Homo sapiens: one gene and its partners. The protein of the gene in region 1 purifies or fractionates together with the protein of each later gene. This does not show direct contact. Each region holds a gene or a part of one and is shown in the gene's direction. Other genes may lie near its edges.

Region 1 (5,062 bases):
AGAAGTTTAATGAGCATCTACTATGTGCCAGGCTGTATACTAGGTGCTAGGCATATATCTATGAATAAGACAGAGCAGTTTTTTCCTTCCTTCATGAAGCTTTAATTCTATTGGCATATTGTTCTTTTTCATATATCTGGTAGAGGAGGATTTATATTAGTAGTCTACAGAGCATTTATTTAATACTTTTCATTTGCCACACCCAGGCACTGTCACAGGGTAGCACAAAGTCTTCAGTAAGATTGGAGACTATAGTCATTGCCTGGGCATTTATCTGTGTCCAGTATAACTCTGATCTGTATTGAGCTGCTCATCAGATGCTAATACATACCTAACCTGATGAAGGTTAGTGGTGTTTTGGAAAAGGCAAAAGAAACACTGAGGACAGGTGGGTTTAGAATTTGAATCTGTCAAACCTAAGTTTCACTTGTAAAAAGATAGATTTTTGACTATTCAGATTTGAAAAGGCAATTTAACACAATTCTACAAAACAAAAGGATGATTGCATACTGTAAGTGAAAATGGAGAAGATTAGTACCAAAGCATGCAGGACATGGCTGTATATATTGGATTTAAAGCCAGTTCCTGAGTATTCGTTAGCTAGTTATCCAATCTGTGGATCATTTAAACCTCAATCTTATTTCCTCTTGGTAAGAGTCAAGGAAAGAAGAGAGAATGTAATGTTGAGGTTGAAGGAACCATAATTCCTTTGGGGTAAAAATGTAAAAGATCGTTTCTCACAGACCCTATATAACATAATCCATAATTCATTTTATGGCTCCTATTAATCACCTTATTATTTTAAGTATGTTTTAAAGGACTGATTTGAGTAATGGATCCTCTTTAACTGAACTTCTTTTTAGTTCTGATACAACACCCCTTTTAAATGGATCAAGCCAAGACAGAATGTTTGAGACAATGGCGATTGAGATTGAACAACTTTTGGCAAGGGTAAGTGCTTTCTGTTAAATGGCTATTTTGCAAATAACTGTATACTTGTTACGTAGGATCCTGGATTATATTGAGACAGACATGTTTATTGAAATTATCCATTCCATTCAATATGTGTACCTCCCCACACCACTTGAATTTTGATGACAGCCATTCTCAGGTGATATGATGTTATTTTGGTCTTTATGGATTATGTGGGGGAATGCTGAATTCTTACTTGCTCTCTTGTTTGTTTTTTGTTTTGTTTTGTTTTGTTTTGTTTTGCTGTCAACCAAAAGGGCATATAGGCAAATAATTTGCTTTTAGCTGTTTATAGTGCTTAGTAAAATATTTTGATTGTTTTTTTTTTCTTTATTTCTAGCTTACAGGGGTAAATGATAAAATGGCAGAATATACCAACAGTGCAGGTGTCCCCTCCTTGAATGCAGCCCTGATGCATACATTACAGCGGCATAGAGACATATTGCAGGTAATATATTGGGCTCGAGATGTTTTCATTATCACAGGAGTTTGGGTTTTTTTTTTTTTAATCCCTGCATTGGATATGTGCACATATATTTAAAAGGACAAAGAGAAAAATCTGAGAAAATAAATGCCATGCTAAAGGGACTTGTTTTACTTTTTTTTGGGGTCACCATTATAAAATTCTGAAAATATCTAATAGCTCTTGCTATTTCTTGGCGAAGTTGAGTAATATTCATCACTGGGTACATATACTTCCACTATGGGAGACCTAGCTAGCTAGCTGTAACAGTGAAATAGCCAATGGTCATGTATAGACAATAACGTGGTGGGTAAGCGTGTACTTTCAGCTAGCTTTGAAGATAATATGGAGGGGGAATTATTTACTATACTTAGTATATTGTTTAAGAAAACAGTAAATGTGTATGCACCAATAAAACTAAATAAACTTTTAAAGATTTAAATGGAGGATATGTTAAAAATATGGTAGTACAAATAGGAAGGCAATTTTTTTTTTTTTTTTGAGATAGGGTTTCTCTGTCACTCAGGCTGGAGTGCAGTAGTACAGTCACAGCTCACTGCAGCCTCAACCTCCCAAGCTCAAACAAGCCTCCTACCTCAGCGTCCTGAGCATCTGGGACCACAAGCACATGCCACCACGCCTGGCTAATTTTTTAAAAGCTTTTGCAGAGACAGGTCCTTGCCATGTTTCCCAGGCTGGTCTCTAACTCCTGTGTTCACGAGGTTTTGCTATATTGCCCAGGCTGGTCTCTTAACTCCTGTGTTCACAGGTTTTTGCTATGTTGCCCAGGCTGTTCTCTTAACTCCTGTGTATGGGCAATCCACCCCCTCAGCCTTCCAAAGTGCTAGAATTATAGGCATGAGCCGCTGTACCCAGCCACAAATATTTTTAATATTGAGAAAAGTCAGCAACTATTTCTAATTTTAAAAACTGTTTTTAAAAGTAGGAATAGATGGCCGGGCGCAGTGGCTCGTGCCTGTAATCCCAGCACTTTGGGAGGCCAAGGCAGGTGGATCACCTGAGGTCAGGAGTTGGAGACCAGCCTGGCCAACATGGCGAAACCCTGTCTCTACTAAAAGTATAAAAATAAGCTGGGCATAGTGGTGGGCGCCTGTAATCCCAGCTACTTGTGAGGCTGAGGCAGGAGAAGCTTGAACCCAGGAGGCGGAGGTTGCAGTGAGCTGAGATTGCACCACTGCACTCCAGCCTAGGCTACAAGACTGAGACTCCATCTAAAAAAAAAAAAAAAAAAAAAGTAGGAATAGAAAGATACTTTAATACAAAAATGTATTATCGGGTTAAAAGCTAGCATTGTGTTTAAAGAGAAAGCAATAAAAACATTCCCATTGTATGAAACAAGACAAGGATACCCATGATCGCTACAAATGTATAACGTTGTTTTTTAAGTTCTTGATGGTGCAATTAGACAGTAAAAAGAAATGAAATGTATGCTGGGCATGGTGGCTCACACCTCTTATCCAAGCACTTTGGAGGTCTGAGGTGGGCGGATCATTTGAGGTCAGGAGTTGGAGACCAGCCTGGCCAGCAGGGTGAAACCCCTTCTCTACTAAAAATACAAAAATTAGCGGGGCGTGGTGGTGGGTGCCTGTTATCCCAGCTACTTGGGAGGCTGAGGCAGGAGAATAGCTTGAACATTGAACCTGGGAGGTGGAGGTTGCAGTGAGCCGAGATTGCACCACTGCACTCCAGCCTGGGCAACAGAGTGACTGTTTCAAAAAAAAAAAAAAAGATGTAAATATTGGAAAGGAAGAGGCAAAATTTCTGTGAGGTAGCAGGATAAAATTATATGTCTAGTACACGCAAGAAAATTACCTGATAAAAAGTTAGAAACAATTAAATTCAGTAAGATGGTAGATCACAAAATGAATACATAAAAGCAAATAGTTTTCCTATTATGATAGGAAATAAATGATAACCTGTTAGAAAATACAATGGAAGAAACTATAAAGCATTTATATATGAATTAAATAAGAAATGTGTAGGACTTGTATGTGCAGAATTCTACTGAGGGACATAGAACAAGATTTAAGTAAAGGAAAGAATCATTCTGTTTTTGGATAGGAAGACTTTCGTCTAAATTGCATGACATCCCAGTGGAAACAGCAGGGTTGTATCGTTGTTTGTTTAATTAAAAACAAATGACATAATGACACCAAAGTTCATTTGGAATCATAGACATACAAGAACAACCAAGAAAAACAACCTGAAAATGAAGATAAGTGGTAGAGGGTTCCTAGTTCTACCAGATCTTAAAACCTGTTAAAAAGCTGGAATAGTTAAGACAGTTTGATACTAGAGAAAAAAAATAAATAAATAAAAACAATTAAACAGAGTTTATATGTAGACCCAATTATGTTTGGAAATTTTTAGTTTCTGATAAAGATGTTGTTTAAAATCAGTGGGGCAAAGAGAAATTATAAAATAAATGGAACTATAACCATTGCTTAATTATTCAGAGATTTTAAAAAAACAATTCTATCTCAATCCTCACATCCAGAACAAATTCCAAATGGATCCAAGAAGGATAGAAAAAGAAACCATAAAGCAGAGGTGAAATTTGTAAACTTTGGAGCAGAAAGGACTTTCTAAATAAGACTTGATACTGGAAACCATAACGAATGGCTAATTTGCTTACTACACAGAGATATAATAGAAATAAGAAAAAGACAGTAGGAAAATGGACAAAGGATATAAAATTGCTTACAAAAAAATGAATGGCCAAAACTATAAAAACATTTTCAGCAGTATTTCCAAATAAAAATACAGAAATCTAAAAGAGGTGATTTTTCACATGTCAGATTAGCAAATGTTGAAACATTTATAACCCATTATTGGCAAGAGTAAAAATTTAAAAAGGGTACTCATATATTGCTGGTGGGAACATAAATTGATGTAATGTTTATAGAAGGCAGTTTAGCACTACCAGAATTTAAATGAATGTGAGATTCTTTGATCCAGTTATTCTTTTTTTTTTTTCTTGAGACGGAGTCTCGCTCTGTTGTCCAGGCTGGAGTATTGGAGTGCAATGGTGCGATCTCGGCTCACTGCAGCCTCCACGTCCTGGGTTCAAGCGATTCTTCTGCCTCGGCCTCCCGAGTAGCAGGAACTACAGGTGTGCGCCACCACGCCCAGCTAATTTTTGTATTTTTAGTAGAGATGGGGTTTCATCATATTGATCAAGCTGGTCTTGAACTCCTGATGTCATGATCCACCCACCTCGGCCTCCCAAAGTGCTGGGATTACAGGCATGAGCCACCGTACCCAGCCCTGATCCAATTATTCTATTGCTAGTCATTTACTCCTTTTTTTTTTTTTTAAGCTCTGTTGAACTTAATAGACATTTACTCTTTAAATATACTTTTTTTTTTTTTTTTTTGAGACAGAGTCTCACTCTGTCACCCAGGCTGGAGTGCAGTGGCGCGGTCTTGGCTCACTGCAACCTCTGCCTCCCGGGTTCACACCATTCTCCTGCCTCAGCCTCCCGAGTAGCTGGGACTCCAGGCGCTCGCCACCATGCCCGGCTATTTTTTTGTATTTTTAGTAGAGATGGGGTTTCACCGTGTTAGCCAGGATGGTCTCCATCTCCTGACCTCATGATCCGCCTGC
Region 2 (5,062 bases), on another chromosome or scaffold:
TTAGCCAGGATGGTCTCGATCTCCTGACCTCGTGATCCACCTGCCTCGGCCTCCCAAAGTGCTAGGATTACAGGCGTGAGCCACCGCGCCGGGCCTTAGGTTGGATTCTTAAGAGTGGAGTTATTGTAAAACTTAAAAGTCATATTGAGAAGTTTAGAGTTTACATTTTAGGCATTGGGCCACCATCAAAATTTTAATAGAGAAATGATTCTGAAATCTGTTATTTAGGAAAATGAATCTTATGGCTGAATGTTGAAATGGTGGGGTAGAGGGTGTGTAAAGACAGAACTCCACAGGGCATTTGAGGAGCCATGGCAACAGTGGTGTAGGCATGAGATAATGAAGACCTTATTTCAAAGAAAGAATTAGGTTGGGCACGGTTCTCACACCTGTAATCCCAGCACTTTGGGAGGCCAAGGCAGGTGGATCACTTGAGCCCAGGAGTTTGAGACCAGTCTCAAACATGGCAAAACCCTGTCTCTACAAAAAATACAAATAGTCTGGGCACGGTGGCTCACGCCTATAATCCCAGCACTTTGGGAGGCCAAGGCTGGCAGATCACCTGAGGTCAGGAGTTCGAGACCAGCTTGGCCAACATGGCGAAACCCCGTCTCTACTAAAAATACAAAAATTAGCTGGGTGTGGTGGGAGGCGCCTGTAATCCCAGCTACTTGGGAGGCTGAGGCGGTAGAATCGCTTGAACCTGGGAGGCAGAGGTTGCAGTGAGCCGAGATCACACCACTGCTCTCCACCATGGGTGACAAGAGCAAAACTCCGTCTCAAAACAAATAAACAAACAAAAAAAAACCACCACAAATATTAGCCAAGCGTGGTGGCATGCACCTGTAGTCCTAGCTACTTGGAGGTTGAGGTGGGAGGTTGCAGTGAGCCATGATCGTGCCATTGCACTCCAGCCTGGGCAACAGAGCGAGACCCTGTTGAAAAAAAAAAGAATTAACAAGATTCAACCTGTTTAATGTAGAAGTGAATAAGGGGAGACCTATACATGATCACATGATCTCAGGATTTTCAATCTAGGCAACTGGGATGTTGGAAGTATCATTACAGAAATTGGAGGCATATGGGAAGAAAAAACAAAATTGGGGACAAATGGTCAAATTGTTATTAATATCATGCTTCACCTGAGGTTGAGAATATCCGAAGGGTCAAGTGAAGATATAAGACTGCAGTTTGGGTACAACTATGTAGATAGATGAGTCAGTCAAATACAAGTGTCAAAATAGGATTTGTTCTCTGAGGAAAAAAATGTAGAGAATCAAGGACTGAGCTCCAAAGACTAAATTAACTTCAGAAATGAAAATAAAGTATAAGGAAGAATAGTAGAAAAAGGGATCGAGGTGATTGGAAAACCAGGAGAGTGCCTTTCAAAGGCACTTTTCTCTGATTTTATTCTGTTCTAAAATAATTAAAAGACTGTCATGAAGAAGAATTAAACTTTTCTTTGGAATTTTAGAAGGCAGATTTAGAAATAATTAGTGGGTGGATGTTACGGGTCTTAGACTTTGAATCAGAATAAAGAACATTCTGACATTTCAAAATGGAATGAGTAACTCTTAAAGGAATTAAGCTCTCTTCCTATTGTTCAGTAGAGACTAACTGACCATTTGGAATGTCAAGGATCCTTCCAACTCTGGGGTTCTTTGAAGTCATGACCTATTTTTAAGTGCAGTAAGAGCAGAAGCCCACTGCTTTGCTCAGCTTTGCAGAAGCTTAGCAAAGGGAAGGGTAATAAGAAGATGGTGGGCCGGGCCTAGTGGCTCACACGTGTAATCCTAACACTTTGGGAAGCCGAGGCACAAGGATGGCTTGAACCCAGGAGTTTGAGACCAGCCTGGGCTACATAGTGAGACCCCATCCTTATTAAAAATTAAAAAACATTAGCCAGGCGTGGTGGTGTGTGCCTATAGTTCCACCTACTTGGGAAGAGGCTAAGGCAGGAGGATTCCCTCAACCCAGGAGTTCGAGGCTCCAGTGAGCTAAGATCACACCACTGCACTCCAGCCTGAGCAACAGAGCAAAACCCTGTCTACTTAAAAAAACAAACAAACAAAAAATCATTTGTTGGGAAGCTCTAAGTGTAGAATGAGTAAGTAATAGTTAATTATTTATCTTCGATTACATAAAGTTGTTTGGAGTTTTGTCATTTATTTTTACAGACTAGAAATATATAGTACTGAATTCTTAATGGGGCTCTGGCCTACTTGCTTATACTGTTAACACTGAGAATTTGAATTCAAACATGAGTCAAGTTGGAATGAACCATACTAATTTTCTGAACCCAAATGTTTTTTAACTCAATGGTGAACCACATTTTTTTTTTCCTTCAGAAAAGCATTTAGCAAACCAGTCAGAACTAGAACTCTACTACATTTTCTAAAATTACTGAACAGGCACAAAATTGTAATCAAATATTTTTCATATCAAACTGGAAATGAAACATTTCATATATTTTAATTTCAGCTTGAAATTTTGTTAGTAATGCAACAGGAATACAGAAATACATTATGAATCAGTGGGAAAAAATCAATGTTAGTGATATGTTTAAAATTACTTGTTTTGTATTTGTCATTTAAAGCTAAGCTACCAAACTTCATATATTCAAGTTGTTGCTTAGTAGATAACATTGAACCAGATTTAATTAAATGCTGAGTAATATATAATTAGCAAAACAGTTGTATGTAAGAGTGCCTTAAAATGATACTCTGCATCTTAAAATTTATAGTTATAAGTGCCTATATTTAAAAAGTATACTTTTCAATCAATTACCTAACCTTCCACTTAAGACAATGGAAAAATGGGCCAGGTATGGTGGCTCACGCCTGTAATCCCAGGACCTTCGGAGGCCGAGGCTAGCAGATCACTGGAGGTCAGGAGTTTGAGACCAGCCTGGCCAACATGGTGAAACCCTGTTTCTACCAAACAATGCAAAAATTAGCCTGGCATGGTTTTGTGTGCCTGTAGTCCCACCTACTTGGGAGGCTGAAGTGAGACAATCACTTGAACCCAGGAGGCGGAGGTTGCAGTGAGCCAAGATTGCGCCACAGCATTCCAGCCTGGGTGACAGAGTGAGACCATGTCTCAAAAAGAAAAAAAAAGAAAAAGACAATGGAAAAAAAAGAGCAAACTAAACCCAGAGCAAGCAGAAGGAAGGAAATAATAAGGATCAGAGTAGAAAATACTGAGAGAATACAGTAGAGAAAATCAATGAAACAAAAAATTGGTTCTTTAAGAAAAACCGTATTTTCCATTTTTAAACATTCCCTGGCAAAATATATACATTAGCTATTAACTTGTATCATCTGAAATAATTTGCTGGAAAAAAAATTGATCCAGTCTTTATCAGAATAATTACAGCTTTCTCGTAAGATTTTATAACATACTCTCATATTAATTATTCTTACAGTTTTCAGCCATTTCTTCTTGCACACTTGTATACCTTTACAAATCCTTAACCAGGATTTATCTGAATCAGATTTTCTAAGGGTACTAAACATGTCGACTTTTTTCCTTCTTTAAGCTGTTATGGTCTACTGTTATTATTGTGGAATTGATTTGAATTGCATTCTTTTCCACCTATTATGGGAGCCTGAAAACCTTCCCTGAATAATGTGTGCTTTAGTTTACTTTCCCAAATTTGGATGTTAATAGTCTTGCCTCATCTAATAAAAGAACTGTGCCTCACTGATGAAGGTTACTCTTGCTGCTTTCAAATGACCAGGGCTCTTAAAGAAAGTCCCATCCGCTTCTTATATACTGTACTTGTATTTTGCCATTTGAAGCATTTACTTACCAGACAACAGATACATAGATACTTCTCTTCCTTCAGTGTTTTCTTAGACTCACATTCAGCCTACTTTCATGGTCAGATTACAGAGGCTAGGCCACGTTGTGCAAGGAACCTGTGTCTGTGGATGCAGTCCAGTTCAGAGTTATATTTATTTGAAATTGGCATTTAGATCTTTTTAAAAACTGTTTTGTTTTCCTTAATTTTTTGGAGTCCTTGGCAGTCAGATTTTATAGATTCCAGGCAGTCCCAATTCAAACTCCAGTAGACTTTTTTGTAAAGTGTGTAAGCTCATGTTAAAATTTACATGAAACTGAAAAGAACCAAGAATAGCCAGATTATAGGACATAAACTACCTGATTTAAAGACTAACTATAAAAACTATAGTAATCAAGAGAGTTTGATATTAGTGGGAAGGTAGATATATGTATCAAGGGAACAGAATAGTCAAAGCAGACCCACATATATATGGTCATTGACTTTTTTCTACAAAAGCACCATTGTAATTCAGTGGGGGGAAAGACAGTTCTTCAACAAATCTTGCCAAAACAACTGGAAATCCATACGCAACTAAATAAACCTTGATCCTTACCTCATATATAAAATTATTTCAAAATGGATTATAAACCTAAATCTACAAACTAAAAGCTATAAAACTTCTAGAAAAAAATGTAAGAAACTTTGTGCAACCCTGGGGTAGGCAGAGATGTCTTAGGAGAAAAAAAGTATAAATTATAAAAGAAAAAATGTTAAATTGGACTTTATGAAAATCAAAACTTGTTTGCTCATTAGAAGAAACCATCAAAAAAGGCAAATCAATGACGGAGAAAATATATTTGGGAAAAAACTTGTATCTAAGATATATAAAGAACTCTTACAACTCAAAATAAACAACCTAACTTTTTGAAAATGGGCAAAAGACTTGAATGGACATTTCATAAAAGAAGATACATGAATAAGCACCATGAAAAGATGCTCAACATCATTAGTCATCAAGGAAACAAAAGTTAAAACTACAATGAGATACCACTTTACGTCACTGAATGGCAAAAATAAAAAGCAGTACCTAGTATTGATGTAGCTATAGAGCAACTGGAACTCACACATTGCTGGCAGGAATGTAAATTGGAAAACCATTTGGCAGTTTCTTGTAAAGTTAAATATACCATATTTTTACCATATTAGCAATTCCACTTCTACATATTTACCCAAGGGAAAGGAAGACATGTATCCATCCAAGACTTGCACATGAATCTC
Region 3 (5,062 bases), on another chromosome or scaffold:
CCTAGTAGAACATTTGGAGAAGGGGCCAGGCACAGTGGCTCATGCCAGTAATCCTAGCACTTCTGGAGGCCCGGGTGGGCGGATCACTTGAGGTCAGGAGTTCGAGACCAGCCTGGCCAACATGGTGAAACCCCGTCTCTACTAAAAGTACAAAAATTAGCTGGGCATGGTGGCGTACCCACCTGTAATCCTAGCTACTTGGGAGGCTGAGGAAGGACAATTGCTTGAACCCAGGAGGCAGAGGTTGTAGTGAACCGAGATCGTGACACTACACTCTGGCCTGGGCAGCAGAGCAAGATTCTGTTGAAAAAAAAAAAAAAAAAAAAAAAAAGAACGTTTGGAGAAGGACTGTGTTCATGGATAGATACTAATACTTCTGTATACTAAAAGAGTCCAATTTTATGGTGTTCTAAGCTATTTGCATTTTGTTCTATTTATGATGTTATAACCAATTTTTATGATATCATATATTGAATTGAAATGTACTCTTACTGGGAATATAGTTTTAGATTTTCGATAAGTAACTTGACAGAATCTGGTTTAATCAGCTCAAATTCTTCAGTTGTATAATGAGCATTTGTTAATAGACTGTTATAGTTTGTCAATTCCAAATGTCCTTTTTTACATTTCTGAAATTAGGATCTATCTTATCACTGATGATATGTCATAACTGGCAGCATTTTTATTTCTCAGTAGTATATAAAATATATTTTAAAAATTATGTTTTAAAATTGTTACCACCTTGGGTTTCATGAAATACGGTATTTGATGAGTTTTCCTTTCATTTTTATGTCAGACTGAAATAAGCAGGTTTGCTTTGATAATGTGTTAATTTTTATGGACTGAAGTAAAGTTTAACTTCATGCTATCCTTGGAAATTGTGGTTTATTAATAAACATTGAGTGCCATTGTCTCTGTACTAAGTGTTTAACTCCTTTATTTACTAATGGAAGGACTGAAGTTTAGAAGGCTTAAGTGATTGTCTCACATTTGTACAACCAGTTAATAACAGAGCCATGGCCACATTGCTTGACCACTAATTCTGTGCTGTTTATCTACTGAACTGTAATGGCTCAGTAACAGTAACTAACAGAAGTGAGGCCTTACTCAGTACTTCATTCAGGGGTAATAGGATAGTCTACCAGTTTGAGAGTCTCGTAATCTCTGCCTAACTTGCTACTTGCCACCAGAGCATGGAAATATTACACAGCTACCATGGTGAACTCTTGTGTACTTTGCCTCCAACCATTCTCCTCTATTTGCTGGAGAATACTGTATCAGTTACTTTATACCCTGCAAGCTGGTTTAGGCTAATTTGTAGGAAACAGTAATTACAAGTTTCCACAGTATGAAATGGTGGTTGTAGCCCATTAGACAGTTGGACAAGCAGTGTGAAAAAGACCACAACCTATGGCAGCCATCACATTATCATTCTTGATATCAGTGGCAACAGTTATTAAACACAGACTCACTGGCAGCATGTGCCTCTTTCCTCTCTCTCCTTGATTATAGAAGGATGACTAGAGAGAGGTGAATATTCCTCATATAAGCATGGTTTGATGTTGGGATATTTGTATGGAAATTGTTCCTAAATTGTAAAAGGAGAAAACTGTAAAATGACTTAATCTATAAGATGCTTACATTCTCTTATGAAACAATAAATAGACAAAAATAGATTGTCTTTAATTTTTAAGGAAACATTTATATACCTTTCATTTAAAAAATATATTTGATTTCATGTTTGGTTAAATTTTTTTATAGCTTCTAAAGAATTGCTTCTAAAATTTTTTTCATTGCGTCCCCTAGCTTTCTGATTTTCCCCTCAGAGAGCCACACTTTCCTCACATTCACCCTTCCCCTCTGACCACCACATTTCTATGAAAAGTGGGAATAAGATTGATTCTGAATATGTTTTAGTTCTCATTCAAGGAGAGTGTTGGTAGAAAAGAATGTCTGACCATAAGCAGTGCTAAAAGTGTGAGCAGAATAGAACAAATGAAGACTAACAAGAAATTAGGGTCTTACTAATGCTAATAAATAATAACAACACTGACATGGGAGAAAGATAGGTTAACTCACTGATTAATTGCAACAAGAGCTTTTAGAGCACTGGTTACTGTCCTTGAGCTAGTGAACTCCCATTTTGAGGAATATTGTTTTAAATAAGTGAATAAAAAAATAAGTTTTAGTTCCTTATGTCTTCTAGGCTTTTACACTCTGATCGAGATCCTATTCCAGATGTTCCTGCAGTATACTTTGTAATGCCAACTGAAGAAAATATTGACAGAATGTGCCAGGTAATATGGGTTCTTATTTTCTGGACTCCTGAATTTGGAAATGGATTTTTTTTTCAAGAAAAATTCCTAGATGTCCAGGGTGAAAAATCAGAAATTCCTATGCCTACTTTCTCACTCTGATTTTTGAGACTATCTTTGAATTCCAAATAGCCTGAAAGACTTAAAACTTTTGGCTGAAGAAGTATTATACAGTAGTCCTCTCATGTCCACAGTTTCACTTTCCACAGTTTCAGTTATCCACAGTTAACCAGGTACTGAATATATTACAGTATTTTGAGAGACCACATTCATATAACTTTCATTACAGAATATATTTTCTGTAATATATTTCATTACAGAATATATTTTATAATTGCTCTATTTTATTTCTAGCTATTGTTGCTAATCATTTACCGTGCCCAATTTATAAATTATAAATTAAGTTTTATCATAAATATGTATGTATAGGAAAAAACATATACGGTTCAGTACTACCTGGTTTCAGGCATCCACTGGAGTCTTGGAAAATAACCCCTGCAAATAAGGGCAACCACTGTACTGGTAAAGTCTGAGTCTGGCTTTAACAAACAGAAAGCCTAGGTATATTGCCTTTCTAACTTATATAGGGTTTTCCTTTTCTAAAATAAGGGTGAGATTAGGAAGTCCACACTGGTGCAGAAGTACTATAAGGTAATCAAAGACCCAGGCTCCTTCTGTCGCTGATCATTCGTCTTTAGTTTGTTGGTTTTCCTTGTCTTGCTTGTCGCTGCGCCTGTAGGCATCAAATCTATGTTCACATCAACAAGAAGAGGGACATGGACTGTGCCAGCCCTGACTGTTGATTTTGATCAGGAATTTAAGCCTTTCCAGAAACTCCCAGAAGACCTTTATTTATTTCTCACTAGGTAGAATCAGTTACAAGGGTGGCTGCAAAAGTCAATATTTAGATGAGTCACCCCAAAGAAAATCTAGCAAGATTCTTTTAGCAAGGAAAAGGAGAAAAGTAGATATTGGATAGGTAAGTAACAGTGTCTTCCACAAGTCACAACATCTTTGTTATTGACTGTTGAATCAAATTGCTATTTAAATTGTTAGTGACGTTTGCAAATTTTGTGTCCTGTGTAGCTTTATGATGCCCAGCTTTCTCTTTTACCCTGCGTAAACTCAAGTATGCTATTCATGAAAGAGGTACCACTTGCAATCTCTTCTTCTTTCATTATTTAAATAACACCTTTATTGAAATTATAATTTACATACCATACAATTCACACATTTAAGGAGCACAAGTGTATGGTTCATTGGTTTTTAATATAGTCACAGAGTTTTGCAACCATCACCACAGTCAATTTTAGAACATTGTCATTACCTCAAAAAGAAACCTGGTACCATTTATCACATCCTCAACCCTCCCCCATCCTCTTCCATCCCTAAGCTACCTTCTGTTTCTGTATATTTGCCTACTCTGACCATTACATATGAATGAAATCCTATAATATGTGGTCTTTTGTATATGGCTGATTTCTCTTAGCATAATGTTTCCAAGGTTCATCCATATTGTAGCATGAATTGGTACCTTATTCCTTTTCGTGGCTGAATATATTCCATTGTATGGATGTACGAAATTTTATTCATCCTTTTACCACTTGATGGACATTTGGATTGTTTCTACCTTTTGGCTATTAATAATGTTGCCATAAATATTCATGTGCAGGTTTCTCTGTGGACATGTTTTCAATTCTCTTGTGGCCGTAAACACATAGGAATAAAATTGCATGGTCAAATGATAACTCTATGTTTACCTTTTTAGTAATAGACTGTTTTGCGAAGTGTGGTTGCACCATTTTATATTCCCACCAGTAGTGTGTGAGGGTTCTGATTTCTCCAGATCCTTGCTGAACACTTACTATCCGATATTTTTATTGTAGCCATCCTAATAGGTTTGAAGTGGCATCTCATTATAGTTTTGATTTGCATTTCTGTAATTAATGATATTAAGCATCTTTTAACATGCTTATTGGCCATTTGTATGTCTTTCTAGAAATATCTATTCAGATCATTCACCCAGTTTTTAATTGGGTTGTCTTTTTATTGTTGAGTTGATAGAATTCTTTTTCTGTTTTGGATACTAGACACTCACAAGTTTATGATTTGTAAATATTTTCTCCCAGTCTATGGGTTATCTTTTCATTCTCTGGATAATGTCCTTTGAAGCACAAACATTTTTGATTTTGATGAAGCCCAGTTTATCGGTTTTTTTTTTTCTTGAGTTGCTTATGCTTTTGGTGTCATATTTAGGAAACCATTCCAGATTCTTGTGTTTTCTTCTAAGAATTTTATAGTTTTGGCTCTTACCTGTAGGTCTTGATTCCCCTTTGCATTATTTTTATATATGGTGGGATGTAGGTGTCCAACTTTATTCTTTTGCATGTGGCTATCCAGTTGTCCCAGCGTAATTTATTAAAGAGACTATTCTTTCCCTAGTGAATGGTCTTGGCAGCCTTGTCAAAAATCAGCTGACCACAGATATCTTGTTTGATTTCTGAACTCTCAGTTCTATTGCATTGATATCTATGTCTTTCCTTATGCCTGTACCACACAGTGTTGATATCTCTTGCTTGATAGCAAGTTTTGAAATTGAGAAATTGTGTCCTCCAACTTTGTACTTTTTTTCAGACTGTTTTGGCTTTTCTTGAATTTCCAAATTACGATTAGCTTGTCATAAGTTTTGTGCTTCTTTTGTTAAATTTATTCTTTCATGTGTTTAATGCTTATTATGAATGGAATTC
Region 4 (5,062 bases), on another chromosome or scaffold:
CTCCAAATTTTTCTATTTTGTCTTGAATGCACTCCACTGAAATTGCTCTTTGAAGGTCATGAGTGACATCCTCGTCATCCAATCCAAAGGTCCATTCTCAGTCTTCAACTTTCTTGACCTATCCATAGCATTTTCCAGTTGATCACTCTGTCCTCCTCAAAAACAATGTATTAACCTGATATCTGGTGCATTACACTTTCTTGGTTCCTTCTCCCTCTCTCTTTCTTGCTCACTCCTGCTCTGCCTGTCACTCTCTCTGTCATCTCCCCTCTGAATCCATTGTTGGCTCCTCCCTATCTCTCTGACTTATCTCCCTGACATTTGTTAAAGTGTCTCTGGGTCAACTTCCTTGGTGATCTCACTCATTGTTATGGCTTTGATACCTTCTGTCTTCCGTTGGATTCTGAAGTTTCTGTTTTCAGTTAGAGCTTCTCTTTTGTAAATCATGTTGCATTACACAAATGTCTACATCTTGATGTAAGTATCTAATAGGCAACCCAAATTTTGAAAGTCTAAAACTCAGCTACTTTTCTACTCCCAACCCCACCCACACCCAGCAAGAATCTTGTTTCTCTCCAGTCCTCCCCCAGCTCAGAGCATTTCCTTCCTTCATTCTAGTTTCTCACACCAAAAACTTAGAAGTTATCCTGGAATTCTGTCTTTCTCTCACATCACAGCCACACTGGAAGCTTCTACTATTAATTCTGTCATTGAAATACATTCAGAATCTGATTGCATCTCACCACACACACTGTTACCACCCTGATAGAAATCATGATCATCTTTCTCTTGGATGATTTCAGTTGGCTTCATACTCATCTCCCTGTTCCCAGCCTGGCACCCTTTCAAACTTCAACACAGTAAAGGAAGTCAAATCACTTCATCTTTCTGCTCAAATCTTCCAATGACTTACTATGTTAGTCACAGTAAAAGCCTAATTAGATGTACTTAACCTTTAGGTAGTATAATACATTGATATAATTCTCATCTCTTAAATATATCAAAGAGAGAAAAATCTCTGAAAAGCTAAAATAGTTTTTAAAATTAAGGAAAACACAGCTCTAAAATTTAATTACAGCTTGATAAAAAATCAGATGCAATTTATACCATATTTCTAGATAGATCACCTCTGTAATCACATCCTAAAGGCTATGCTTGCCTCTTCAGAGCAGTTTTCATATGATTGGAAGAATAAAATTTTGGAAATCCCTAATATATTTGTTTGCATTTTTTTATGATTCAATCTTTCATTTAGCAAACATTTTATATCTCCTAGGACATAGAAAAGGGAAGACTTATAGATTCTATCCATTGAAGTTACTAGCAGTTCAAATACTTTTTTATTTCATGTACAGGGATGACTAAGATAAATCCAACCTATTCCAACTAGAGCTTGATATGATCACTAACTTGACTATTCCAGATTCTTCCTGTGGTATCACAAATTAGAATAAATGGGCCTATCAGTCTTAATTTAGCCACAACTACCTTAGTCAACTTGCAGAACTTGTTATTTGTCTGAAAACTTACAGAGTCATCTTTTCTATAATGCTGTCCCATACAATATGTGCTGAAATTATTTCTTCCATTCCTGAACATCCATAACATAGGGTTTATTTGCACTCTGGGTAACATAAATACACATTATTTTAATTCATTCCTAATTTTTTTTCCAGTGCTAACTCTTATTTGGATTATAAACTTCCCAAGGGCATTTTCTTTCTTGGCATGCATGCATATTATAGCAAGATGAAGTTTCTATTTCTGCGCAAAAAATTGTAGCCAGGAGATATTTAGAATGTTGAAATTGACATATTCTTTTTGTCAAAACAACAAATCAGTAAAAACAGCTTTTCTTAAGTTATTTGGAAATGATCACAAACTTTTTCTTTTTTTTTTTTTTTAATTACTTTTAGCAAGCTCTATTGCCAAGATTGGCTCAGATCCTTTAAAACTGGTACGTGATGCTATGGAGGAAACCACGGACTGGATCTATGGCTTCTTTTCTTTGTTATCTGACATCATCTCATCTGAAGATGAAGAAGATGATGATGGTGACGAAGATACTGATAAAGGTACAAAGAACATAGAGATATATCTAACTGCTAGGAGCAACATTAAATATGTATTATAGTGGCTTGCCTCAGTTTAAATTCAAATGAGCACTTGGGTCAAGCTAAACCAAAATGAATACACTTCTGACTGCTAAAAGCATATCAACAGGCTGCCAAACACAGTAAATTGTTCTTTATTTAATTTTCATCTTATAGCTTATCTACCATTATGGCAAAGATGTCAAAATTAAATGTTAATATTAATGTAGCATTACAGCAAAGGGAGTCTCATTATGCTCTGCTATAAAACCACAATACAAACTCACATTTATATGCTTCTTTGGAAAAAATAGTTATTTTTCAAGTTTATCTCTAGGAAGATTAAAATAAAAACAGTAAAACTAAAAATACATATAAGTGTTTTATACACATATGTCATATTTATAGTCAAATAGCAGAAAGCAATCTTACTAAAAGTACAATCAAAAGAGTAAATTTATTGGACCAAATGGTGGTGTAGAATAGAAGGACACATTCTAAATGTCCTAACAATTATGCAACTAACCTATGTGCTCTCTCATATATATTAATGAATAAAAGGAAATAGCCATCTCAAACCACATAAAAGCTGCCATTGAATGAGTATGAAAAGAACAAAGCACTGTGATTCCATCTATTAGATAACACTTTTTAGGGTCAGTCTTAGTCATCAGAAATCATGTATTCAGCCTTGACTACCAGGAAAGCTTTTATTATTAGAGTATTTTTATAACTTTTCCTGAAATTATATTTGTTTTGGCCCCAGTAAGAGTTCAACATGAACAATAGAGAGTTGAAATTAATATGATATATAACCTATAATGTATAATTTGGATCACTGCCACAATTTTATTGAATTCATAAAAATGAAACAATCTTATATAAATGTATATAAACAAACTTTATACTTAAAAACTGGAATTTGGGAAGCAAAGTAATGTAAAGACTATGATTGTTAAAACTAATAGATTTTTTTAAATAAACAAAAGGGGAAAATAATGATGTCATATTATTCTATGCTAAAATATTTTCTAACTTTGTTTTTCTTTTAATCTTGGTCTAGGAGAAATAGATGAGCCTCCCTTGAGAAAAAAAGGTTAGTTGTTTTCACCTTTGATAATAATTATTTTTCTCTTATGGTAATATTGGTTTTCAGCATGGTTCAAATATATTTTACTTATTTTAATATAAAGGTTTTGTTTAATAATTAGGTCAAGATTTATAGTCAGAAAAAAAATACTCAATTTCTTTTCCAATGAAGGTGATCTCACTACTTTTCTGTTGATTATTTTTTAAATGCCTTATTCAGTAGATTTGTATGGATTCATTTATACACAGACCAATATGAGCTGGAATTTGAGGAATGAGGGGAGAATTCTGTAGCCTTAGAAATGGCCCAGAAAATGACACCCATGATTTATTCTCACCATGGTCAGATTTATTGATTTTAAATGTTTATTCTTATTCTTTTCCTTTTATTTTTTTTGCCATCATTATTTTGCATGTTAGGTGATGACTATGGGCCAGGACAACAAGACGGTGAGGGACATAACAGCCTAGGAGGCAAAGGCATATCCAGTTGGTATGTGTGATGTGTCACTGTCATGGAGTGGAGTTACCTGGATGTGCCTGGATGTGCTGTAGAGGAATTACTTGCAGGAATAGATAAGGTGACTGAGTGAAGTGGTCACAACCTGAATGATAAGAACGATAAACCTAGGACAAAGGAGGACAGCAATGGGGCAGGAATTTCAGAAGACAGAGATTTTGACAGGAAGGGGTAGGAACTGCATCTGGAAGGGGCACTGGGGAGCAGGTAGTACCATCTTGAGGTACATTTGTTGTGAGAAAACAGCCAACATTCAAGCCAGACTTAAAACAATTGCAGTGTTTTAGTTACTGCTACACATGGGCAGGCTGTTGAGGGTTTACCCAGGAAGATAACCCTGGCTTCTGTTGCTCTCTCCTAATACCTACTGTGGATTCAAACAATGGGATCCAAACTTACAGTTTCAGCCTTCCCTGAGAAAATGATGACTACCCCACACTATCTGGGGTAAAATCCACTTAGTGTATGTTAAATTAGAAACTTTGGATTTGTAACTTACACAGCAAAAAAGAGCTAAGCCAGTCAAACTCAACTATGGCAAAGGCATCCAGAAATGAAAGTGTTTATAAAGCTCTGTGAGGAGAAAGGAAGGGTTTATACACCTGCAAATCCAGAATGAGAACTCAAGTACTCAAGACAGACTTCAGCCATCAAATCCAGGTTTAGAGATTCTAGATTTGTCTATAAACTTCAAGAGATTTATAGCTGATTTCCCATAGAGAGTGAACATAGTCAAGCTTTAAGTGAGTTATTAGTCATTATCTGGAAATAACAGCTTATGCACGTTTATTTTCATTGGAAATGGAAGAAGGGAAAACAGATAAATAATGTTTGCTCATTTATACTTATAAACTGAATTCCATAAGACTATTATAAAGCCATGTTTTTCATAAATTGATATTTACTATTTAATAAAAAATCTTTTCTTTTGATTTAAATTTTTCTTTGAAATTATTTTAAAATTAAGCTTCATATAGTAATTAGTATAAACTGCAAATTCATACAAAGCTGTTTTACTATTGTTTCTTAAATTATTTCCTTGATTCAGCAAATCAAATTTTTGCCAGAAAAACTATTAAATAGTTGTTTAGGGTACTTTTAAAAAATGTTAGAAATGTTTATTAGTCAAAAATAGTCTAAGGGATATATGTCCTTCAACACATGTGCACTAATGTCCTTAAAGATTACATACTCAGAATTAGGAGAATTGACTTTAAATCACCTGAATATATTTTCTTAATAGTATTATTCACACAGTTACATGAAAAAAATTGACATTTAAGTAAAAATCTCAGATGCTCTATCTTGGGTACAGAGGCTATGTAATAATAAACCTTAGTTGAAAGTGAATTCAAGAAGA

What was found. Proteins that work in one complex are often made in the same cells at the same time.
Region 2: the proteins of GOSR1 (region 1) and CHURC1-FNTB purify together in Homo sapiens (affinity purification with mass spectrometry, with the first as the bait; one large-scale study listed by BioGRID). This does not show direct contact.
Region 3: the proteins of GOSR1 (region 1) and SCFD1 purify together in Homo sapiens (affinity purification with mass spectrometry; 2 studies listed by BioGRID and IntAct, with this or other methods). This does not show direct contact.
Region 4: the proteins of GOSR1 (region 1) and TRDN purify together in Homo sapiens (co-immunoprecipitation; one large-scale study listed by IntAct). This does not show direct contact.

The regions. Positions count from the first base shown.
Region 1 is NC_000017.11:30,483,351-30,488,412, forward strand, and holds part of GOSR1 (Golgi SNAP receptor complex member 1), read left to right. Parts: intron 1-863; coding exon 864-951; intron 952-1,312; coding exon 1,313-1,420; intron 1,421-5,062. UniProt on the Homo sapiens protein: Involved in transport from the ER to the Golgi apparatus as well as in intra-Golgi transport. It belongs to a super-family of proteins called t-SNAREs or soluble NSF (N-ethylmaleimide-sensitive factor) attachment protein receptor.
Region 2 is NC_000014.9:64,916,783-64,921,844, forward strand, and holds part of CHURC1-FNTB (CHURC1-FNTB protein), read left to right. Parts: intron 1-5,062. UniProt on the Homo sapiens protein: Essential subunit of the farnesyltransferase complex. Catalyzes the transfer of a farnesyl moiety from farnesyl diphosphate to a cysteine at the fourth position from the C-terminus of several proteins having the C-terminal sequence Cys-aliphatic-aliphatic-X.
Region 3 is NC_000014.9:30,631,741-30,636,802, forward strand, and holds part of SCFD1 (sec1 family domain-containing protein 1), read left to right. Parts: intron 1-2,206; coding exon 2,207-2,297; intron 2,298-5,062. UniProt on the Homo sapiens protein: Plays a role in SNARE-pin assembly and Golgi-to-ER retrograde transport via its interaction with COG4. Involved in vesicular transport between the endoplasmic reticulum and the Golgi.
Region 4 is NC_000006.12:123,545,467-123,550,528, reverse strand, and holds part of TRDN (triadin), read left to right. Parts: intron 1-1,916; coding exon 1,917-2,075; intron 2,076-3,156; coding exon 3,157-3,189; intron 3,190-5,062. UniProt on the Homo sapiens protein: Contributes to the regulation of lumenal Ca2+ release via the sarcoplasmic reticulum calcium release channels RYR1 and RYR2, a key step in triggering skeletal and heart muscle contraction.